3 separate regions of the Homo sapiens genome follow, and regions 2 and 3 are each linked to region 1. Evidence: fine-mapped expression QTL. A gene starts in region 1. Each other region holds a variant in brackets. All regions are shown on one strand. Distances are from middle to middle.

Region 1 (8,174 bases):
CCCTCTGTCTGAGCTCCTTAACTCTGAAACCAGATAAGAAGGTGGGAGACAGGGGCCCCTTTTCTCATGGGATTAAATGAACTCAATTGACAGAGCTCTGGAAAACTTCATTGTCGCGTAACATAGTGAGACCAGCTTTGGCAGTGGTGCGTTCTTTCTCTCAGCCTCCACGGCGGTTTCTTTGCAGGATAGGGCCTCACAGTGGGCCTGGATGGCTTTGAACTGCTGGATTTAAAGACCCACTCCCACAACATAAGCAAGTATCAGAGGGTCGACAGAGCCACAGACCCTAGTCCTGAGAAAGAGGCCGCCTGGTGGGATAACAGTGCACAGGATTCAGCTTTGGGAGACTTGGTCTGCAGGCCCAGCCCTGCCACTTACTGATCCTGATCGGTGCTGTCTGATCCTGAGGAAGCCACATGTCCTCTGTGAGCTGTGCAGTCTCCCTCTGCCCCCCTCACTGGTATTTTCATGGAGGTGATGTGTGTAAAACCACGCTGTGAATTGAACACGCTCAGAGAGTGGCTAAACCTTCCAGAAGACTGGCTCATCATGAAGCAGCCACACAGGTGCTCAGACCGGGATTGATCACCTAGTCCAGGTGTCCTGCTTCACAGATGAGGAACTCTAAGCCCTAGAGAGGTAAAGGCTCTTCTCATCCTCCACACCCCTGATTACCAAGAGTAATCACCCCAGAGTGCCTTCCCTCTGTGTGAATGAGGTCTCCACATAAAGGACTGGCTTCCATTTGCAGGAGGTGGGTGTGGGCAGCCAAGGTCTTGAGGCACGGGAACTTGATTTTCATTCTTCTCTCAGCTGGGCTCATGGATCTGTTTTCGGAAGCGCAGGGGACTGAGCTGAGACAGTCACGCCTGTCCTGCAGCATCTCCAAGGCTGGTCAGCTCATCATAGCACAGGGGCCCGAGGGTGGTCCTGGACACAGCTGTACCTCAGTCCCTCCCCCACCCGCCACGGTGGCAGCAGGAGCACAGGTGGGATGGGACATGAGACCCAGGGTGGAGGTGGCGGGGCTAGTCTCCCTGAGGGAAGACTTTTCTTCCAGGTGAGACTCAGAAGTCAACCCCCTAGGGAGAGGAACTCAGCCTTCAGAGGTGCCCGATGCCTGTTTTGCTGCGCTCTCCTGGTCCAGGTGGGCTGGCTGGGTGTGCAGGTGCCAATGTGCAGCTGGGAAAGGTCCAGAAATGCGTGTTTGTGGGGGATGGGGAGCGGGGCAAGCAGGAGCCACATCGCCCGGTCAGGAGTCTCATGAGGATGGCAATGCCTGGGTGTCTCTGACACAGAGAAAGCCGAATTGTCTGGGGCAGCAGACCTGAACTTTAAGCTGAAGGGAACAAAATCGGGTGCAAACCCAAGCAGAGTCTCCTGCTTCAGCAGCCCGGGCATCCTGGGGTCGGGCCTCAGAGCATGTCTGCCTCTAGATAGCTAGGATGTCTGGAGATGCGAGTATGTCCCTGAGGCAAATACTCAGTTATCTCCAGCGTCCAGGTGATCAGCTGAGAGAGTGAGACAGTCTGGCCCTGAAGGCTGAAAAATGGACTTTCTCTGCTGGCACGGAGTTCTCTTGGCTTTCCTATGTTTTGGTTCTTAGGTAGATGTCAGAATCTGTTCCATGTGTGGGGGTAGAGGGGTGTAGCACCCCGCTCTGGGTTTGCAATGGGTGCATCTTAGCTTCTTACTTTTTTTGTGTTTTTCTTTTTTCTTTTTTTTTTTTTTTAAGATGGAGTCTTGCTCTGTCACCCAGGCTGGAGTGCAGTGGCGCGGTCTCCGCTCACTGCAAGCTCTGCCTCCTGAGTTGACACCATTCTCCTGCCTCAGCCTCCCGAGTAGCTGGGACTACAGGCGCCCACCACCACGCCTGGCTATTTTTTTTGTATTTTTAGTAGAGACGGGGTTTCACCGTGTTAGCCAGGATGGTCTTGATCTCCTGAGCTTGCGATCTGCCCACCTCGGCCTCCTAAAGTGCTGGGATTACAGGCTTGAGCCACCGTGCCCGGCCATCTTAGCTTCTTTCTGGTGGAGCCCCCTAGGAGCCAGGTGTGGGGGTCCTAAAGAGATGGGAGAAGCCCTCTTCTCACCCCTCTCCTGCCACACTCTCTAGTACTTGCTTAAAGAAAGGAGTCAGAGGAGAGGGCTGGTGCTCCCACCGCTCCGTGCTCTCAGGACAGGCAGGGAAACAGGTGTTAAATCAGCGTGACCCAAAGCTGCTCTGCCCTGCTTTTGGGGAAGCAAATACCACAAGGGCTTGCAGGGGTGCGTCCCTGGGGTGTAGTCAGCACCTGCAGTAGCCAGAGGGGCAGCCACGTGGACTCTCACCCACAGCAGTTCCCATCCTAATCATCTGTTTCTCCCTGGGTCTTTCCTACCCTGCCTTTCCCAGTGATAGAGGGTGGGAAAGATGGGGTGAGAAACAGAAGGCTGATCGCCTCCTTGTCTGGACTATTCTGCACAGGCAATGCCTATGCCCTTGGGGCCCCCAGCAGTCGGGCACAGACTGAGCCTAGTATTGGGTCCCGGCCAAGGATGCCATCACCACAAAGTGTCAGCTTAGCTGCTGCATTGCCAGGATCCCTGTTTCAGGGAACTATGACGTCTGGGCAGGTCAGTTCTTCCTTCCCTGGCACATCTCTGGTTCTGTGCTCCCTAGGGGCAAAGAGCACCCCTCTTCTGGAAGCCTTACCCTCTTTTCCTCCTGGAAAAGCCTTCACCTGGTCTTTAGGGGAGAAATTGGGGTTTAGGGCAACACAGACACCTCCTGCTGAGTCAGCACCATCTTTGCATCTAGTTAGAAATGGTCTGGTTAGGTAGCCATCCCCTGGACTCTGTTTTTCTCCCCTGTTTAGGTAAGAGCTGTGTCTGGGCTAAGGGCAGCTGGGTGGACCAAGTGTGGGTCTGGCTTTACTAGAGACATTCACCCAAAGAGCTCGTTCCAGCCCCTGCGCCCCTCGCGTTTCCACCAAAGCTTCAGCTCCTGGGCTGAGCCCCCAGGCAGAAGTTCTCTGCCCCTCCCTCTTGTGCTGGCTGCTGGCATTGCCAAGTTCTGCCGGGGCTGAGCGCCAGGTTGGCAAGGTAGTCCATGCCCCATTGATCACAACCAGCTGGCTGCACAGAAGTTGGGCAGCCCCTCTCCAGGTTCAGCTCCTTTCAAACAATGTCTTTTGCTTATGGCGACCTCCATACCCAAGGGAATCAGACAGCCATCTCTCTCCATCCCATCTGCCTTTCCCTGGGAGCCTCTCAGATCTGGAGGCAGTAGAGGGCTGAGGGGTGGGAGTGGGAGCTATTCGTAAACGCTCAATTTTCATCTCTGCTGGGAGAGGCAGGTGCCGGGGAATGCGTTGATACCCACTTTCGGGTCAGTGCGCCACGTGCCGCGGGAGATTCGGATGAGAGGGATGGGCGTCGGCAGCCCCACTCTAAACTGGAAGGGACCTGGGGGTGGGGGCGCAGGGATCCAGGGTGGCAGAAGTTCAGAAAAGAGTTACTGCTCTTTCTCAGACAGGAGAGAATCTCGTTTGGGGTAAGGCTGGAGAAGATGAGTGGGGAGGGCTTTTTTTTTTTTTTTTTTTTTTTCTCAGAGGGATTGGAAGGGGAGATTTTAGAGACGCTGGGAGGCGTCTGGGGGGCCTCCGGGCACGGCGGCTGGAGGAGGCTCTCAGTCCTACCTGCAGGTCGGCCCCGTAGAAGGCAGCCATGGACGCATCGGCCACCAGCAGCGTCTCCACGAAGCGCGCCTCAGACACAAACCGCTTGGTCCTACTCGTGGCCCCCAGGGGCGGTGGCGGCTCGCTAGCGCCTTCTGCCTCCTCTTCTTGGCTCTCCTCCTCGCTGTCCTCCTGGTGGTCTCCTCTCTCCTGCCTCTGACCCTCTCCCGTCTCCACCTCCCACTCGGGTCCTCGCGGGAGGGGGCGGGCTCCGGCGGGACCCCAGCGCTGCAGGCGGTGCGGCTGAGCCAGGGAGCCCCCCGCGCCCTGCGGCTGGATGGTGAACTCCTCGCCGTCCAGCAGGAAGGAGCCGCTCAGCCCGCGGCACAGGCTGACCGCCGCCAGCGACTCGGGCTCCCCATTCACGGTGCCGGAGAAGAAGCAGCCGCGCAGCCCCCGCTCGCCCCCGGTCGCCCGGCCGGAGCCCCCGAGGCGCTCGATCTTGAACTCGGGCGCTAGGAAGCTGTCGTCGGGCGCCAGGCGCAGCACGAAGCCCTTGCCGAAGGCGGACAGGTGGAGCGCGAGCTCGCCCGCGCTGCCGGGCAACCGCGTGGGCACCACCAGCTCCGAGGCCTGCCCCCCGGCTGCGGGCCGGGCCGGGGCGCCGCGGGCCAGCGGCAGCAGCAGCAGCAGCAGCAGCAGGAGCGGAGGCCACCGGGGGGCGGCGGGGGCGGGGAGCATGGGGGCTGCGGCGGTGGCTGCGCGCAGGAGAGGGAAGAAGCCCGCCAGGCGCGGGCAGGTGCTGGCGGCCCGAGCGCGGCCCGGCCGCTCTCTCCAGGAAAAGCGGAATCAATCGGGTGCAAGGCCGACTCGGCCCGCGGGGCCCGGCGGCGGGAGCGCTCCCCCGGCGGCCCCTCTGGCTGGCGCAGCCCGCTCCTCCCGCGCCGCCGCCCCCGAGCCGAGCGCGAGCAGCTGGCCCCGGCCCGCGTGCGCCCGTCCTCCGCCCCTGCCCGCGCCAGCCCCGCGCAGCCGCCTCCTGCCTCCTCCCCACCCCGGGAAGCACCGAGTGGGCTGCCGAGCCCTTCTTATTTATACTTCCTTCCCGGCTTGACATAAGAGGTTTATTTTTGATCTCTCACTATTCCCGTTTCCCCTCCCCTGGGATCAGAGAGAGAAACTGAAAAGAGGGAGAGAGAGTGGAGAAAAAAAAATTGGGATGAAATGCAAAACCAATCAGGCAGCGAGACCCGTCCGCCACCCGCCCCCCTGAAGTGTCAACTACAACTTCTTTCCTTTCCCTCTACGCGTGGACCCACGTTAACCCCTACCATGCTGGACTGACCCTTTAGAAAGAGTCCCTGGGAGACCCCAACCGCTTTCTCCTCTGCGGCCAAGAGTCCAGGATGCATCTTCCGAAGAGGCTCGTGCACTGGTCTCAGCGACCCTGTTCGGATCCCTGCAGAGTCCGACTGCAGAGCCCGACACTGTTGGGATCCCTGCAGATGCCTCCGGAGATCCGACTGTGTGGGGAGAAGGTTCCTGAGCTTTTCATTGTAAAGCATAAAGGGAGAGGAGGAAAAGGTCATGCTAAAATCATGCCCTCCTCTCATCACTACTGCACAGCCTTCCTAACTTTCACTCCAAACTGAAGATGGGGAAAACAAAAACAAAACAAAAAACAACCCACCTGGTTAACCCTAAGAGGGACTCTCACTGTCCTGTTAGAGGGCAGGTGGGGCAGAGGCCAGCACAGTGGTAAGTTACCAGCACTGAGGTTGGAAGTTAGCATTTCCCCAAGAGGGAAACAGACCTCCAGTCCCTGAAAAAGGTCTTCTCTTCTGGATACTGCTAGTTGCCCGGGACTTCAAGTAAGGTGGCAGGCCCTTTCACTGCGTTGCCACAGCCCCAGGAACAAATGTGTATGAGGTGAATTTATTCTGTCCCATGTCACCACTGCCCCCTAGGGAAGGGGGTAGTATTCAGGAAGAGAGGGATGACATGGTCTCAAGACCACAAAACTGCATCCCATCCCAGTCTCAATGACACAGGTCTGGATTGGGTGGAGGGCCCTGTTCTCTACCTACAAACTCTAGACTCATCCACCAACTGTGCCTTTCTCTGAGTTGTCAATGTGGGTGATGCATTAGGAACCGCTGGGATCAGGGCCTTTAAATCCTTTGCCAATTCACCTGCCCCCAGGTACCCAGCTCTGTGCTTATGCTGGGGATGTTGACAGTCGAGGTCATCGCTGATTCTTTTCAGCCCATCTGACCCCTTCCTGCAGTGTGGTGGTTCAGCATGCATCTGAGACTCTCAGGGCTTGTTACCTCCAAAGAGGAGGCTCTTGCCCAGGGGAAAGTGCTGCCAAATTCCCTCTAAGTATCCCCCCTCTCTTTGCTTTCTCAGAAACACAGAGGGACAGCTGTGAATTAGATGAAAGGATGAACTTCCCAACCTAGCATGGTGCAGAACCTCCTTTCCTGCATAATTTATAGGATAGGAATAACGAGTCTAGAATGTTTTGGGGAAACACTTCTAGAGGAAGGACAATGGAAAGAATGGTCTCTTCAACCCTTTTCTCAAAACAAGCAAAACACTTCGTCCTAGCACAGTGTACAGTGCTTGGGACATCCTGTACAGTGCTTGGGACAGTCTGACCTGGGCAAGCAATGAATACAACTCTGTGTTGCCTCAGGGCTATTGTAACAGTTCAATGACTGGTTTTTACCTCCTTGAAGCCCCTTATTTGCTGTTTCCCAGAGTACAACTCCTGATTTTCTCTTTTTGAGACACAGTCTCACTTTGTCACCCAGGCTGGAGTGCAATGGTGCGATCTTGGCTTACAGCAACTTCTCCCTCTCAGGTTCAAGAGATTCTCCTGCCTCAGCCTCCCAAGTAGCTGAGACTGCAGGCAGGCACCACCACACCTGGCTAACTTTTGTACTTTCAGTAGAGATGGGGTTTCACCATTTTGGCCAGGCTGGTCTCCAACTCCTGACCTCAGGTGATCCGCCTGCCTCAACCTCCCAAAGTGCTGGGATTATAGGTGTGAGCTACTGTGCCAGCTAACTCCTGATTTTCAGTAGCAGTTAGGTCCTGTGGGTTTTCCTTCTTTCTCGAGTGTAAGCATCTGGGAGGAGTGGGAGTGAGGAGCGTGCCCAGTTTCCCTTTCTCCCGCCCGAATGCTAAGGGCTAGAAGTGGGAGATTTAACTGAACCAAGGAAAGTCTTGAGTGTCCATGGAGCCTTTGGTTGTGAAGGCTCTGGAAGTTGCTGCTTCATTTTTATTTTAGTTTTTAATTTTTTGAGATGGCGTTTCGCTCTTGTTACCCAGGCTGGAGTGCAATGGCGAGATCTCAGCTCACTGAAACCGCCTCCAGGGTTCAAGTGATTCTCTTGCCTCAGCCTCCCAAGCAGCTGGGATTACAGGCTCCTGCCACCATGCCCGGCTGATGTTTTTTTTTTTTTTTAGTAGAGACAGGGTTTCACCATGTTGGTCAGGCTGGTCTTGAACTCCTGACGTCAGGTGATTCTCCCACCTTGGCCTCCCAAAGTACTGGGATTACAGGCGTGAGCCACCGAGCCTGGCCACTGCTGCTTCATTTTTTTAATAGGATGAAGTGCCCCCATAGGTAGCATTTTGGAAGTTCTCTTTGGAGAGAGAAGTCAGATAGTGAGTTCTGGACTTTATCCTTCCTCATTTCAACAACAACATCACCACCACCCCCACCACCCCCACCACCCACCACCGCCGCCGCCGCCACCACCACCACCACCACCTGCTGACTGGTTCATTGACTGGCCCCGCAGTCCCCGCTCCCTCCTGGATTTCCCCTTCCCCAGATGTGCAGTGCTGCTAACTTCCAAGGTAGCTCCTGCCGTTCGCAATGCAACCACAAGGTGTCAGGCTTACCTTGGCTATGTTAAACCCAGGACCTGGCTATGTTAAACCCAGGACCTGGCTATGTTAAACCCAGGACCTGGCTATGTTAAACCCAGGACCTGGCTATGTTAAACCCAGGACCTGGCTATGTTAAACCCAGGACCCTTGCCACAGGGAGCGAGAAAGGGTGGGTGGTTTGTAGTGGCCGCTCTTAGAGGAGTGGCAGGTGAAAACAGTGCAGCAAAACAAACATCAACAAACCAACCCGTGAAAATCCCATAACGGCATTCTGCCAATTCCGGATTTCTTACATTACTACTTTATTTCCCAAAATATGTAATTACGGCAGGGTTGCCAAACTACGGCCCTTGGGCTAATTGCTGCACACTGCTTGTTTTTTTGCACTCTACAAGCTAAGAATAGTTTTTATATTTTTAAGTGGTAAATTAAAAAAATTAGAAAGAATATTAAAATTTCTTGACACTTGAAAATGGTATGAAATTCAAATTTGTGTCCATAAATAAAGTTTATTGGAATGCAGCCACAGCCATTCATGTACGCATTCTTTGCTCTTGAGCTGCGAGGGAAGGGTTGAGTAAGCCTAAAATATTTACTATCTGGCTCTTTGCA
Region 2 (8,174 bases), 26 kb before region 1:
GGATCACTTGAGGTCAGGAGTTTGAGACCAGCCTGGCCAACATGGTGAAACCTTATCTGTACTAAAAATACAAAAATTAGTCAGGTATGGTGGCGGGAGCCTGTAATACCAGCTACTCAGGAGGCTGAGGCAGGAGGATCACTTGAACCCAGGAGGCGGAGGTTGCAGTGAGCTGAGATCGTGCCGCTGCACTCCAGCCTGGGCAACAAAACCAGACTCTGTCAAAAAAAAAGCTAAGTGCACAGCAACATGAGGGTGCTTAACCTAACCTGAGGGTTTCATTGAGGGTGTGACCTTTAATCTGTGACCTGAAGAATAAGTAGGACTATGTTAAAGTGGGGAGAGAAGAAAGAGGAAAAGGAACATTTCCGGAAGAGGGAAGAGTATATGTGATGTTTGGAGAGAGAAGTTGTGTGCTTTGGAAGAGCAGCAGGAATTCAGGGAGCGAGGGGAGAGTGGAGAGACATAGCTGTGAAATGCGGGAGTGAAAAGACACAGCACCTGCGAACACCGATGGGGAGCTGTCAGCAGAGAGGGAGGGGCTGGGTCTTTGGGAAGGGAGGGGATGGTGGAGGGGCTGAGCGCCTTGAGAGGGTGGAGGGCTGCAGTATTGAGAAGGGATTAGTTTTGACAGTGGGAAAATACCTCTCATGTAACAGAAACAGAAGGAGAAAGGATAGATTTTAAAAAGGATGGATATACAATGGTTTTCAATTTATGATGGTTCAGCTTACAATCAATTGTTTGACTGTTCGATGGGTTTATCCCAATGTAACCCGATTGTAAGTGGAGGAGCGTCTGGGCTTAGGACGATTCAACTTACACATTTTTGACTTTACAATGGATTTATTGGGATATTAAACGCATTTTAGTCTTACGATATTACCATGGGTTTATTGGGGATGTAACTCTGTGTAAATTGAGGCGCATCCGTAGCTACCAGCAAGATTTCAGGATTCGTGGTAAGAAACGAACAGGGTTTTTAAAATTACGATTTCATTTTCTTGTGTTTTTTTTTTTTTTCCTCACCCTGTCCTGCTTCCTGAGATCTGACACATTTGTAGGCTAGGCTTTCGGTAATGTAACTCCAGATGGAGAAGAGGGAGACATTTTTTCACATCCTAATGCACCAGGGATAGGCTAGCAGGAGGCCACAGTTAGTACTGTGCAAAGCCTACTCTCTTAGGTATGCTGTCCTTGGTCCTGTCCCTGTGAGAGATTTTCCCCCTTCCCCTCACCCACCTTTGGGATCTGAAGAACCATCTCCATCTAACAGTGAAACTAGAAAGAACCGAGGGACTGACAGACCATGTCAGGGCCACACCCAGGACTCCAAACAGTGGTGGAAACTGAGGGGCCAACAAGGAGGATGAGGTAGAGAAGCTGGGCCATGAGGGAGCCTGGGTGTGTATTTATTTATTTACTTTTGAGAAGGGGTCTGGCTCTGTCACCCAGGCTGAAGTGCAGTGGTAGGATCACAGCTCACTGCAGCCTCGACCTCCCTGGGCTCAGGTGATCCTCCCACCTCAGCCTCCTGGGTAGCTGGAACAGCCCTGGCTAAGTTTTTTATATGTTTTATAGAAACGAGGTCTTACCATGTTGTCCAGGCTGGTCTCAAACTCTCGGCCTCAAGTGATTTGCCTGCCTCAGCCTCCCCAGATGCTGGAATTCCCGGCATGAGTCACTGTGCCCGGCGTATTTTTCTTTTTCTTTGTTTTTTTTTGTTTTAGACCTAGGTGTTTAAATCTCATGATGTACTGTGCCCTTCAGAGAGCTGGAGGATTAATTTAATCAGGGGGAGGAGTTATCTTCTGAGTCTTCACTCTCCTATGGACTTGACAGAGATTGAAACATGCCTGTTGAATCCAAAATAAGAGAGAGTTATAATGTTCCTCTAGATTCGTGTCTATACGTGGCCCGTTAATGGTGAGCTGGTGTCCCCTCTCCCTTCCATGATAAGAGATACGGTACTGGGCTCCACTTAGCAGTGGAGGTGAGTTTGTTCACTCACAGCGAAGCGTGGCATGGGGATGAGCTGGAGGAGCATGGGAAGCGCAGAATAGTTCTGTGGACAACCATCGGTATTGCTGAGAGGGGGTCTGCTCGGGTTGCTGGACAGTTTCCATCAAACGCTGTAACTTTATGGTGGCACCAGTGTGCTCAGGGCTGGGATTCCCCCGGGGTGTGGATCTGCTTGTAGCAGGATGACGTGAGAGGTGAGAGGTGGGGAGAGGGGAATGGGTGCCGTGTGAGGCTCTGCCTGCTGAGCAGCACAGAGAGTCTGTGGGGCAAGGGCAGTGAGAACACTGGCAAGATTGAGGTGGAGGCGCTGAACGTGGAGTCCAAGCAGCTCAGGGAAAGCTGAAGACAGAGGAGCAGGAAAGATGGATGGGGGAAGGACACGTGCGGAGGCGGTCAGGGCATGGGGAAGGATGCATTTATGGGAAAGATCTGGGAAGATGGGAGATTGTGGTTGAGGAGGAGGAGATTTGATGTAGGACTTCAGAGGTGGAGCAGTTCTGAGTAATGAGCAGCTTCAGAACGTGGCTTCAGGGCAGCCTCGTTGAACCTTGTCACTGATGGGACCCTCTCTTCCATCCCATGTCCACATGGCTTCTCTCCTTGCAGCCTCTGACGCACCTCCCCCGCAGCTACCCTTTTCCTATTTTCTGGTCCAGCAAGAGGAACTCACAGCATCTTTTCTTACTTCCGGAGAAATTCATTCCACATGTGTCTGATTCATTCGCGTTTACAGAAACTTGAAATTTCCAGTGTCCAAAAACCCTTTCAACTATTTTTTTTCTTCCCTTTCTTAGAAACAGGAAGTTGTGTTTGGCTGCGGACAAACTCTCTCAGTGCCCCTGGGACTTACAAGATGTTTGGAATGAGGAACGGTGAGGTCTGGGGAAGGCTTCTTTCCTCTCTCCTTTCCTGGGGCGATTCGCATCTGCCAGGGCTGGGCTGGGCAGCTCTGGGGGCTGGAAGGCCAGCCGGAACCTTCCTGTCTCTTTCTACTGAGCCCCAGGCCTGAGGGAAAGTATGTTCTAAAGAGACAGGTGGCTTTCTTGCTCTCTGCTTGTCATTACGGTTCAGAATGCACTTGTGCACTGGTGTCATGTCTCTTCCCAGTACTTGAGCAGTGGCTGTGATGAGTCCCTTGATCTATTTCAGGGGGTGTGGGCTGGCCGGCACTCAGTTTTAAGCAAGTCCTGCTCTTTCCAAAGTGGAAGGTCAGAAAAACTCCCCACCTGAAGAAGAACGAGCCAGGGAAGTGTGGTACCAGCTGTTTAGGACCACACCTATTGGTTACGTCTGGCCAGGTCATTCTGCAGTGTTGACCTGGAAAGCACACAGGTGCTTAGGAGGGGCTGGCCAGGGGCAGGGAAAGTGTGGGAGTCACAGCCCACCCACTCCGTTCGCGGGACCCTCCAGTTTTTACTGTTGCTCGTTGTGTTCTCCTGTGTTGTTTAGAATGTTGTCATATGTACGGTCAATACAACCACAGTATTTGTCGCATTAGTGATCACCAACATTGAGCCAATGAAGACGCTGGCTTAGATGGGTGACTTCTTCTTTCCCACATTCCACA[T/G]GCAGCTCTCCCAATGCGAGCTCAGCGGAGGCCCCCAGAAAAACGTGGGGAGGAGAGTTTTCCCCATAAGACAGACTGTCCTTCAGCCCCGGCCACCAAAGAGGAGTAACCCGGGCCTGCTGTTCTCTGGGACTGAATGCGGCTGCATCCTTCCCTTCCTCTGCTTCCTGTCCCGGTACTTACTGACGGTGCACATGCGGGGCTTGGGGAAGCTGAGTGTCTAACCGCGGTGCAGCTACGGATGGGAAATTCTGGGCAGGGACGAGCCTGTCTTCACCTGAGGAATTCCCTCCCACATCACACAGGGCAGAGTGGGAGTGGAGGAGGGCAGAGGACACGTCTCAGGGCCAGTAACCTAGGCTTATAGAAGACGTCATCACCGTCCTCATGATGTTCACCCCGTCTCCTGTTTTTTGGGGCCATGTGTTCCGAAATGTAGCTTCAACTCATCATAGGGGCAAAAAGAAGTGATGAGTCTGTGGCAGCAGAAATCTGGGAATCCAAGGGTCGTGCTACATCTAGTCCTCTTTGATAAATTCTGCCTTCCTGTTCACATTTTTCGAGAAACCATTTTGAATTCCCAAACAGCAAAGGAAATGCTGCAGGTTCCTGGAGGGACCTGGTGATCTGGGGCAGAGCACACGGAGTCGAGATTGCTGCGGGGTTCACGAGCCTCCCCTCCTGGGACCAGGGGCACCTGGGCAGGGTAGTCTGCACCACGCAGGAAAGCCCAGTACACGCAGCTGCTCAACGCTGCAGACGCCATAGCGCAGGGCTGACAAGGCCTCCCTCTTTATCTGCCCTGGACCACAAGTGGAAAATATCAAGACAAAGCAAAAGCCAGTATCCCTTAAGAACTTTCCAATTGTTCTTGTCATTTGTAGTTTTGTTTTTTGGGGGGTGTGGGGAGGGAGGGGTGGTTTGAAACAACTCCGGAGCACACTCCAGAGGAAAACAGGAAGGGTGACATGTTTGGACACCAGAAAAGAGGAAGAGTCCTCACTAAGAGGGTGACTTGGTTAAAAAGTTCAAGCACAAAGGATGTAGAAGCAGGTGGATGTCATCAGAGAACAGATGCGGATCTAGTGAGATGGGTCCTACCACCCCTGGAATATGTTCCTGGGAGAGGGGTGGTCTGCTAGAGTGGACTGGGAATAGTAATATTGCATACTTTTGTAAATTCACAAAACCCTCTGATCTGTGATAGAGGAATAAAGGGCAGAGGATAAACCCCAGATAAAGATTCACTTATCTTAAAAATGAAAGGTTGGAAATTAACTTTATGCTACTGTACCACCTTCGAAGTATTTCTGGCAGGTGCCTGGAGGATTCAGATTAATGACCAAATTACCTGCCAAGTCAGGGCCTCCCATTAGAAGAGAGTACCAGTTTCCATTAGGAGCACTAGCTGGAAAACACAATCTTTCAGCAGAGGAAATACAGTCTTCTCTCCTTCTCTGGGTGCACAGAGTGGTCGTGGTTGGCTGGGGCAGATAATGGTGTGGTCTTCCTCTGCAGATCTGGTTTCTGAGTCCCTGGGCTGCAGCTGTTGAATTTCCAGACACAAACAAGTATGCGTTCTGAGAGCCTCGCCGAGCCCACACAACCGGGAGAGCCAAGCTGGATTCCATTCTGCTTTGCACATCAGCAGCTCTGCTGCCAGCTGAACTCCAGGGCAAAAGCTGTGCCTGGTAATGATGCAGGCAGCAGGGATGGCACAGCTGGCCTGGCTTAGGCCGTTAAGGGGGACACGCTTGGCCTTATTTGGGGGAGAGCGAGAAATGGAAGGCGATGAAGAGTTGCGGAAGCATACATCAGCCTCCACAAAACTGGTGCACAGCAGGGAAACAATCTGGTTTTGCTAGTCATCAACAACATGCCTGTGTGTGTGCCTGTTTATGCTTAGGTAAGCCCAGCCTCCCACTCGCTGAAAAGAGTAGGCAGACAAGAAGGAGTGACCAACTCTGAGTCAGCTGTCATCGTGTAGAGAGCAGCTAAGGGGAACAGTGGGGCTGGAATCTCATGGCCTTGCCTAGTGCCCCTACAGCATCCTCTCTGCCCATGGTGCCAGATATCTGAATGGGAGGACAAAGGGGGCACAGGTGGTGAAAAAAACCAAGATGCACATTTGGGTATTTTCCTTCTTTTGCTAGAATGTCATTTCTTGATGTCTGTTTCTTGTCACCCATTTGTGATCAGGGACTAAGTAAGTTCCCTCTGCACCAGACCAGGTGGAAGACTGAGCCAGAGTTCCTCTGAGCCACAGGAGAGATGAGGAGCTATGGAGCGGAGTAGGGGCTGAGGATCTGGTGCCCCCAGCTAAACTAAAAGGAGGCAGGCAGCATGTAAGAGGATGATGGGGTAGCTCACAGAGAGGAAGGGGATATTCTTTCTCAAGAATGATGAGCCCAAAGGCATCGCATAACAATTGTGATCTCCCAGCTGGACGTTTCCTGTAGCACAGGTGTTCACAGTGTGGCTCCCAAACCAGCAGCCTCCATGTCAGTCACTGGGAACTTGTTAGAAATGCAGATTCTCAGGCCACCCCAACCATTAGATCAGAAACTCTGGGGATGGGGCCCCACAATCTGTGTTTTCTTTTCTTTCTTTCTTTCTTTTTTTTTTTTTTTGAGACAGGGTCTCACTGTGTCATCCAGGCTGGAGTGCAGTGGCATGAAAATGGCTCACTGCAGCCTCAACCTCCTGGGCTCAAGTGACCCTCCCACCTCAGCCTCCTGAGTAGCTGGGACTACAGGCCTGTACCACCATGACCGACTGATTTCGTTTTTTAATTTTTTATAGAAACAGGGTCTCGCCATATTGTCATGGCTGGTCTTGAACTCCTGGGCTCAGGCAATCCTCCTGCCTCAGCCTCCCAAAGTGCTGGAATGACAGGTGTGAGCCACTGTGCCCAGCCTCACAATCCATTTTCACAGCCCTCTACGTGATCCTAATGAAACCTTGGGAACCACTGGTCTAGATCCTGCAAATGAAAGTTGCCCGAATGAGCTGGATTCTGCAGGCCTGTGAGGACCCAGAGCAGGCAGGGATCCAGCTGCTGACCTAGTTTCAGCCTCCATCCCTGGGTTCTAGGTTGCTGCCCTTTCCAAAGAAACAATGAATCAGACCAGACCACTGCATTGGCATAAGATCACACTTTAGTTCAGAGACACATTTGCATAAATACTTGAAATGGATCCACCCCTGCAGGTGGCAGCCTGAGAACATGTGGCTCTCCAAACCCTGCGACGCTGCGGCCCTTTAGGTGATGGATTTTAACACTGAAGACAGTCGTGGTCATTCTTGAAGACAGCTTGGGGTCCAGCTTTGGAGCCTGCTTTGACATTCACCATTGACTCCCTGCCCCACGCCTCTCTTGTACTAATTTTTTCCCCTGTGAGGTAGATTATTTATCGGGGAAACCAGATAGAATTTTTTTTTTCATTTAAGTTTGCTAGTCCTTTGCAAACAGACTGACGCTGAGTGTCCTGTCTGAGTCAATAAGTGCACTTTTACCTTTTAACCTATGCCCTCTACTTGAACCCGAGCAAGGTCCAGTCCACTGGACAGTTGATGATAGGGTCTGCCGCCCCATACCCTCTCCTCTTCCCCCTTAGGAATTTGTGCAGTACTGGAGGGGTTGCGGCAATGGGAGGCCTGGGTGGGCCGTGCTGCCTTGATATGGCCAAGGGACCCAGTCACCACAGTGGAGACCCTTGTCTGCACCTCAGTACCGCATGTCCAGGAGCACAAGACTGGCCCCTGCCCCCCTGAATCACAGGGGGCACAGCTGGCTTTCGCAGGGCTTGGCATCCTCGGGTTTCAGAGCCTTGTTGCAGGTGGCAGAGGCCTGGCCGGAGGGGTCCCTGCACTCTACAGTTCGCCTCTGCCAGCCGGCCCCGCAGGTGCTAGAGCACTCAGACCAGTCCCCCAGCACCCACTGTGCGTGGAGCAGCGGCTGGATGATGTTGGTGGTTGCTCTCTCTTTGCTGCTCTGCATGCTAAAGTCCACGTCATTAGGAACAAAGAAGGTGTATTTGACTTTTGGGGGGAAGACCTCGCCAGGGACTGTCAGGAGCTGCACTGTCAGAGGCTCTGGCAAGGGCCGGAAGCTCTGCAGGCGCTCCAGGGTGGCGATGGAGCCGCTGTACTTCAGGATGGTCCCCTTCACCAAGATGTCCTGCTCTATGGCAGAGATGGCCAGGTTGCCGTTGAGCAGGTACTGCCCATCAGCCGTCTTCAGCGCCAGGTAGTTCCCATCGTTCTGCACACCCGGGTGGCTCCGCTGCTTCACGTCAATATTAGTGGCACCAGCTGGGATGGTGACAATGTCATTGTAGCCATAACTGTGATAGAAACAGAAGGACACCCTTAGACCAGTGGCTGCCCAGCCCAGGTCACGATGATGCCTTGGAGACTGAAGTGGGCACCCCAGGTGGCAGACACGAAAAAAACAAAGCAAGTAATTAAGCAAGTTGCCTCAAAGTTCTCAATAAATTAGCTGTTTAGGCAGACAGAAATGTCTGTACATTGGGATTTTCAAGGGTGTTTGCTTCATCTGGCAACTCTATTTCAAAAGTGTGGT
Region 3 (8,174 bases), 32 kb after region 1:
CTGGCATTTCATCTTGGCTCTTTGCCATGAGGTTTTGCCCTGAAGAAAGGAGGGGCTCCAGAGAGGTGTGTGTTTAATCCACCTTGGAGTCAGCAGACAAGGTGCATGGCAGGGCAGGGACGGGGTCAGTGTGTCAATGCAGGTGTGGGGCAAGGAGCCGGGGGCTCGTTCAACCGGAGAGGTGGCGCAGACGGTGCACTCAGAGCACTCTCGGCACTTAATCCTGCCTCTCCCTCTCCCCAGGCCTCTCCCCACTCAGTGTCAACCGGCACTTGCTTGAGCTACAGGGCGAGGCCTTCCATTCTTGGGGCGATATGCACCAGAGGCAGCAGGAAGTCATGGTGACAGCTCAACCCTGCCGCTGTGCTGCCTGGACTTCAATCCTCACTCTGCGCCCTTCCTCTCTGTCTAACCTTGGGCTTACTGTGTGACCCTGGGCTAGTTACTTACCTTCTCTGGGTCTCTTCTGTGCGATGGGGCCTGATAATGGCATCTTCTTCCTACAGCTGTGAGGATTAAATGAATGAAGGCAGATAAAACTCTCGCGACAGTCTGGCACACAGTAGCCAGTCAGTAACTGTTAGCTATTATCGCTCTTCTTGTAGGCGCCCTCTCTCTTGAAGGGGTGATTTTTTTTTTATAGAAGATTTAGCCTTCTTGCAAGCTTGGGGTCCCTCTTCTTCCTCATTGAGGTAATTATTATTGTTTTGGTGACCTCACTCTCTTGCAGTATTACCATTTTGTACATCTGGAGGGATTTATATGCCAGTGAAATAGAATCTGCCAGTAGAAGTAACTAACATTCTTCGTCACATTGCCAAGGCACTGAATTGCTAGATTTTATTTCTTCTAGCAAAGCAAGGCCCTCCCATCCTTGGGGATTACAAACAGACATGGATTTTGGGCTGGACAAGGAAATACAGTGATGCATGGCAGAGATTCGGATGGGAAACAAGTTAAAGGTACAGTAGTAATACTAGCGCAGGGTGCTTTTCACCAGTAATTATGGTCTCCTAACTAGTGTTGCATGATTTAGACCAAAGAACATAGCTTTGGATTGGGGACCTCATTCTTTGCTTAATAGCCATGGGGACTGGGGTGCATAATCTCAAGTCACTGAGCCTCAGTTTCCTCATCCGCAGCATGAGAAGACAGCCCTGCAGTCCTGTGAGTATAATACCTGGATGCTGTGATGTAGCCGCAGAGATGAGCTCTGGCTCTCCTGCCTAGAACTTCAATGGAAGCAAAGTCCGCTACATGAGAATGCGTATGTCTTCTGCCACATTAAAAATGTTAAAGTGCGGCCAGGTGCGGTGGCTCATGCCTGTAATCCCAGCACTTTGGGAGGCTGGGGTGGGTGGATCACTTGAGGCCAGGAGTTCGAGAGCAGCCTGGCCAACACGGTGAAACCCAGTCTCTACTCAAAATGCAAAAATTAGCCAGGCGTGGTGGCGCATGCCTGTAATCCCAGCTGCTCGGGAGGCTGAGGCACGAGATGCTTGAACCCGGGAGGCAGAGGTTGCAGTGAGCCGAGATCACACGACTGTACTCCAGCCTGGGCAACAGAGCGAGACTCAGTCTCAAAAAAAAAAAAAAAAGTTAATGTGCTTGATTTTTGTGCATCCCTCTGTCTTTGTACTGCTGGAAAACATTGAGCATCTTGGTACATGCCTGGGAAATGAGAAGAGGTAGGAAGGTGGTTCACAGGGATGGCAGCTGGTGGGAATCGTGGTGGAGGTGTGTATGGAGTGACACTGGTAAACAAGCTACTGTCAGATGTTATCCTTGTTTATTTATTTAAGGTGTGGCTCCAATCCTAAATTATTTTATAAGAAGGGACAGTTAGAAAATAACAGTCCAGGAGGATTAAGGTTCCTGGCCAAGATGATTCCAGGATCATCTGGAAAAGTGGCTGCAGCTACAAAGAAAAACAGCCAATTGCTGGGAATCGTGAGGCAGGTAGGGGCTGGGTTAGGAATACCTACACCTTCTGGGAGGAAGAAGGCAGAACAGCTTCTGTTTTTTGGAGGCAAGCACTTGGGCTGAAGAGGTTAAGGCAGTTTTAGTGCCTCTGAGTTCATTCCAGAAGGGTGGAGATTTTTGATGCCACAAAGGAGGCACTGCTGGGCCCCTGTATAAGCACTCGTAGGCGTTCAAAGTGCAGAGGCCCAGCGGTTCTTCATTGAGTCCCTGCCGGGGTGGGGAGGAGGACAGGCAGAGCTTCTGACCCCATACAGCTGTGTCTTCCCACAGTGAAGACGCTGGTTACTGCAAGACGGCTGCTTCCAGAGCCACTCTTACCCTCAGGAAATTTGCCGGCTCTTTCCTTGTTCCTCTCATTTGATCCAGGGAAACCGGGACTTCTTGATGGAAAGAACAGGTTGCTTCTGGCCAAGAAGGGCCTGCAGCTGCATGTCTTTGCTCCAGAGAAAATCCACCCTCCCTAGGAGGAAGGAGGCTTTTGGCCGTAAGGACTTCCCAGCCACAGAGGCGGCTGCGGGGTGGCTGAGTTCCAGACGCCCTCTAGATCCCAGTCTGAGCATTCAATCTGGTCTAGCGGTTTCTTTCTTTCTTTTTTAAATTTTAATTTTTGTAGAGATGGGGTCTTGTTACGCTGCCCAGGCTGGTCTTGACCTCCTGGCCTCAAGTCGTCCTCCCGCCTTGGCCTCCCGAAGTGCTAGGATTACAGGCCCGAGCCACTGCATCCTGCCTGGTCTAGGCATTTCTGAAGAGCGGGGCCGGGGAACAGGACTCTGAATCTCCACGTGGGTGACTTCCACTTTTCTGAGAGCGAGTGCTGTCAACTACATGACTTGGGTCAGTAGACAAGATGTTCCTTGGGGTTCTAAAAATATGTCATTCTGTGGGTTCCCTTTATAACCTACAGGGCCAGAAGGGGCTGCATGCTCTGGGACTGGGGAAGGAGCAGAGGCTGAAAGCACTGGTTGATTCAGGCTCTAGTTGAAAGTTGGCCCTTCCCCAGAGCAGGAAACCAAGGCCCCGAAGAGAGAGGACTTGGATAAAGTCACACATCTACTTAGTGATAGGGCCAGGACCGGAATCTAGACTTCTTGATTCTTATTTCTGCGCCCTCTCCCTCTTACACAGGGAGCAGTGAGTGTGCAGGGCAGCCCAGAGGCAAGGGTAGGTGCCTGCCCCCGCAGGCTGCAACTGCTAGGCTAGAATGTCCAGAGCTCCAGCCTTGCTGGGTCCTACACCACACCCGTCCTACACCTACATCCTTCACTATGCCCTTGCAAGAGCCTTCATCCCTGCCCTCATCTTGGCTCCCTTCCCCACAGTTCACACGCTGATCCATGTTT[C/T]TCAGCTGTCACATTCCCTAAACTGCTGGTCGGGTGAAGGTCCCCTCCCAAGTGTTTTTTTTTTTTTTTTTTTTTTTTTTGAGACAGAGTCTTGCTCTGTCACCCAGGCTGGAATGCAGTGGCGTGATCACGGGTCACTGTAGATTACCCTCCCAGGCTCAAGTGATCCTCCTACCTCAGCCTCCTCCTACCAGCCTGGCCAACATGGCGAAACCCCATCTCTACTACAAATACAAAAATTAGCTGAGCATGGTGGCAGGTGCCTGTAATACCAGCTACTAGGGAGGCTGAGGCAGGAGAATCGCTTGAACCTGGGAGGCAGAGCTGGGATTACAGGTGTGCACCATCATGCCTGGCTAATTTTGTTTATGTTTTGTAGAGACAGGGTCTCACCATGTTTCCCAGGTTGGTCTTGAACTCCTAGACTTAAGCGATCTGCCTGCCTTGGCCTCCCAAAGTGCTGGGATTACAGGCATGAGCCACTGCGCCCAGGCCCCTCCCAAGTTTTGACAGTGGTTGTTTTCTAGGTTTCAGAGCTCTTGGGAAGGAAAACTTTCTGGGAGAGTGGGTCTTTGAAGACGAAAGAATATGGGAAGAGAAGGGCATTTGAAGTCCTCCATGGGGCTCCTAGAAGTGGAGGTAGTGCTTCCAGCAAGCACAGGTGGCAGACCTGGCTGGGTGTGCAGGGCACACATCACTGCCTCTGGTGCACCCGGGTTCAGGCTGGTCACCCTCGGAATAACTGTTCACTCATTAGGAGGTGTGACTATCATCTGACCGTGGGAAGCCAAGTTTGACTGCTCAGGTGGTAAACCTCTGAGTGCTTTGGATTAAATTTTGCTGATTTTCTGTACTCTGACCGCTTTTCCTCCCATGCCCCCTGGCTCCTGGCTCCCTGCGCTGTGCTGCTGCCCACCTTCGCCCCTTGCCAGCATGTACACAGATGCACATGTGGCCTTGCATATACGTGCACATGCATGCAGACACATGCTTCTTTGCCTGTGGAAGGTGGTAGTAATAGTCGTTATTTCAGTGGGATGTTGTGAGGATTAAATAGGGCTGTGTGTGCAAAGTGCATGCACAGTGTCAGCATTTAATACATCATAGCCATGATGAACTATAGGCATGAGCCTAGTTCCCACCTCTGACACATAGATACAATAATATGTCTGCATCATAAGCCTATTGTGAGGATTAAATGAGGTGACACATGTAGCAGCTTCCTGTGAAATGCAGAATGCCTTATGCATTAAAGGCAGCGATGTAATGAGAGAACCAGCATCACTGATTCAACACACATCTTCTGTTTTTTTTTTTTTTTTGAGACGGAGTTTTGCTCTTGTCGCCCACGCTGGAGTGCAATGGTGTGATCTTGGCTCACTGCAACCTCTGCCTCCCAGGTTCAAGCGATTCTCCTGCCTCAGCCTCCCTAGTAGCTGGTATTACAGGCACCTGCCACCATGCTCAGCTGATTTTTGTATTTGTAGTAGAGATGGGGTTTCGCCATGTTGGCCAGGCTGGTCTTGAGCTCCTGACTTCAGGTGATTCACCTGCCTCGGCCTCCCAAAGTGCTGGAATTACAGGTGTGGGCCACCGTGCCTGGCCCAACACACGTCTTCTTAAGAGGAGCAGAATGTACACAAATGTCTTATCCTATTTCCAACTTTTGGGCTTTTAAGTTATCTGAATGTGTTTCTGGCCAACGATGCTCAGTAAGTTCTTTGAGATATCCACCCCGGAAGCCCTATCCTGCCTTTCTGCGTCCCCTGGGAATACTTCCTGTCAGGGTTTTCTGCTGGAGGCCCTAGGTTCTGTGGCCAAGTTAAGCTTCAGTACAAAACGAGGGACCTTCCTGCTTAGGTGGCCATCTCTCTATTTCATGTATCTTTCTTCCTAGCAGCCACTGAGCGTGTGTCCCCTTGAGCTTCTGTAGCCAATGAAACTGTGCCGGGATGGGGTCTGGGGTCCACCTCAATGCTTCCTCCCAGCCTGATCACTGGCATGGGTGGGTCCTTGGCCAGCAGCCCTCTGGCTGAGAATCTTAACTTAATTCATGGTTGGCCAAAAGGCAGCCCAGCAAAGACCGAGGCTGCTCGAAGCTGCCTCTGGGTGGGAATGGGACTGGCTTCCTCCCTGTTGCCTCAGCGAGCCTCCCTTGGCTATGGGAGTCACTGTTTTTCTGGTCTGGAGGGCCGTCTCTCTATAAAGTAGTGGCCCTTGTAGTTTAATTTTGTACCTCCTAATTTCCTCCCAGAGGACCTCCCTGCATAGGGTTTGGGCAGAGTGTTTTTGGTGAAGCCACAGAGCTCTTCCTGGGTTTCCTCCCTCAGCCAGGTTGATTCTGTGAACAGCCCCACAACCTCCTAGGAAGAAGAGCCCAGCTGGAAGGTGCTGGGCCTGGTGAGGTTGGAATGAGATGAGCTGGAATGTCCTATAGGATGTCCTTTCTTCCCTTCAGGTCCCTTCTGTCACTGTCTCTAACTTCGGGCTGGCTTCTGCTTCTCCCCCACCCGGCAGGACCTGTGTGGAGCCACCACCTGTGACACCCTGGGCATGGCTGATGTGGGTACCATGTGTGACCCCAAGAGAAGCTGCTCTGTCATTGAGGACGATGGGCTTCCATCAGCCTTCACCACTGCCCACGAGCTGGGTAAGGCTGGATAAGCTCCTCCTGGGGTCTTCTGGGTTTGCCTGGGGAGCCTGGAGGGTGGGAGACGTGTGTCTTTGCCCCCTTGTGTTCTGAAGCCTTAGGACCCCTTCTTAGGGCACAGTGAGCCTTAGCAGCAGCTTTGTACTTTTTCCGATTGCCCCAGCCCCGCTGGCCAATGACGTGGTTTGAGCCCCTTGGCAGAGTGTCTCAGCACTTAGGCACTGTGGGGACACCATGTTAACGACAAGGAGGTACACTCTGTTGTCAGGGAGCCCACAGCCTGACGGAGGGGACAGAAAACACAAGAACATGATCTTGAGGACATTTGAAAGCAGTCTGTCGATAGTTGGCAATGACCAGCCTGAAAACCTCTGACATGGGCTTTCTAGTTCCCCTGCCCCATTCCTCCCTCCAACCCCCATGTCCTTCCTCCTGCCCTCTCAGTCCTCTTGCCTTACCCCACAGGCCACGTGTTCAACATGCCCCATGACAATGTGAAAGTCTGTGAGGAGGTGTTTGGGAAGCTCCGAGCCAACCACATGATGTCCCCGACCCTCATCCAGATCGACCGTGCCAACCCCTGGTCAGCCTGCAGTGCTGCCATCATCACCGACTTCCTGGACAGCGGGCACGGTAAGCCAGGACGGCGGGAGGGCAATGAGGCCGCCTCGGAGGGGGCTTTGCTGCTGCCCCTGGTGGAGGTGCTCACTTCTCCGTCCTCTGTACATTAGGTGTGTGTGCCCCCTCGGAGCCGGGCTCTGACATGAGTGCATTCCTGTTGCCCTTGGTTCATTATCCCCTTACCATTCAGATTCTGGGCTAGCCAAACCTCATCTTCCCAGCTCATCCTAACGAACGCCCTCGGCTCTCTGCAGGTGACTGCCTCCTGGACCAACCCAGCAAGCCCATCTCCCTGCCCGAGGATCTGCCGGGCGCCAGCTACACCCTGAGCCAGCAGTGCGAGCTGGCTTTTGGCGTGGGCTCCAAGCCCTGTCCTTACATGCAGTACTGCACCAAGCTGTGGTGCACCGGGAAGGCCAAGGGACAGATGGTGTGCCAGACCCGCCACTTCCCCTGGGCCGATGGCACCAGCTGTGGCGAGGGCAAGCTCTGCCTCAAAGGGGCCTGCGTGGAGAGACACAACCTCAACAAGCACAGGGTGAGTGAGTGCTGGAGCTGCGCTCGGGGACTGCTGGGAGGAGGGATGGAGACCCGGGGGCCTCGTCTGCCCTTGGTCTTCACCAGGAAGGTGCCTATCACAGACTGGCCACGGGACCAGCACTGTTGCATGGCTGAGCTGTGCCTTCACTGCCCTGTATATAGTCCTATCCCCTTCTTGACTCTAAGACCGGAGAGAAAAGCTATGGCAGGTCAGAGGACTTGGTGAGGCCTCAGACACATGGGGAAAAGCCTTCAACAGGACGTGGGGTCTCAGCCCTGAGCTCCGGGCCTCGTCCTACCTGGGGAGGAGCTCTGGGCTCAAAACTGAACACATAGTGTCAGGAGCGGCTCACTCGCTGGCTCATCCCTTCCTTCTCTCATCCACTCTTTCCCAGTGTGTTCCACACCCAGGGAGCTGGGGACCATGCTCAGGAACAGGGCTCAGAGCTGCAATGAAGCAAAGCCCTGGGCAAGCTTCGGGAATTGGCTGCATTCTGAATCAAGCTTCCATTTCTGTTGCGATTGCTGTTTTTCTTTAGCAGGAACATAGTTGAATAATACTTGTTTTCCCTCCTGATAAATACGAATAGCAACCAAACAAGAACACATTCAGAATGCCAAATATTCTCTGTATATAATAACTTTATCTTGTTCAGGTCTTGTTTTGGGGGTTTTGGGGGTAGGAGAGGGATTTGTACTTTTCCGGGCAGGAATAAGAGGTCTGTTCTCCTCCCGGATCCTGGAGCTGACTGTCCCTTCCCATCCCCTGTTCTCAGCTCGGGGACGACTTGCCTCTGGGCACAGAGGCAGTGTCACAAAAAAGCATCCACCAAGCACATTATCAATTGCCCTGAGATGAGTATGGCACAGAATTATTTAAAATGTTTTTCTGTGTTCTGGGGATACATGTCTAATTAAACCTTCAACCGTTGGCTAGGCAAAAACCCACTGTGTTCAGGGAACTGTGTAAGATACTGTGGTGGTCAGAAAAAGAAATAAAACACAGGCCATGCCTCAGAGAGCTCACAGTCAAGTGGGGA

Direction of the effects. Alleles are on the strand shown, and positions count from the first base shown. SD is a standard deviation of normalised expression in the study named.
For the expression in testis of the gene that starts at base 4,726 in region 1, allele T in region 2 goes with a higher level than allele G (moderate effect, 0.43 SD a copy in GTEx).
For the expression in hippocampus of the gene that starts at base 4,726 in region 1, T is the high allele of the variant in region 3 and C is the other (large effect, 1.1 SD a copy in GTEx).

What was found.
Region 2: its variant is fine-mapped to the expression of ADAMTS8 in testis (GTEx, PIP above 0.99).
Region 3: its variant is fine-mapped to the expression of ADAMTS8 in hippocampus (GTEx, PIP above 0.99).

The regions. Positions count from the first base shown.
Region 1 is chr11:130,423,884-130,432,057 of GRCh38, forward strand. ADAMTS8 (ADAM metallopeptidase with thrombospondin type 1 motif 8) reads right to left here and starts at 4,726. Exons shown (of 9, transcript NM_007037.6): 1 at 3,684-4,726. The coding sequence starts at 4,403.
Region 2 is chr11:130,398,194-130,406,367 of GRCh38, forward strand. ADAMTS8 (ADAM metallopeptidase with thrombospondin type 1 motif 8) reads right to left here. Exons shown (of 9, transcript NM_007037.6): 9 at 6,730-7,935. The coding sequence ends at 7,365. ZBTB44-DT (ZBTB44 divergent transcript) reads left to right here. Exons shown (of 7, transcript NR_148980.1): 6 at 2,817-2,894; 7 at 5,108-5,464. Among named protein-coding and RNA genes, the nearest start is that of ADAMTS8, 26 kb to the right of the region's middle. The variant T/G (reference allele first, on the strand shown) is at 3,590.
Region 3 is chr11:130,455,649-130,463,822 of GRCh38, forward strand. It overlaps ADAMTS15 (ADAM metallopeptidase with thrombospondin type 1 motif 15), which reads left to right. Exons shown (of 8, transcript NM_139055.4): 2 at 5,841-5,973; 3 at 6,439-6,606; 4 at 6,849-7,132. Among named protein-coding and RNA genes, the nearest start is that of ADAMTS15, 11 kb to the left of the region's middle. The variant C/T (reference allele first, on the strand shown) is at 3,324.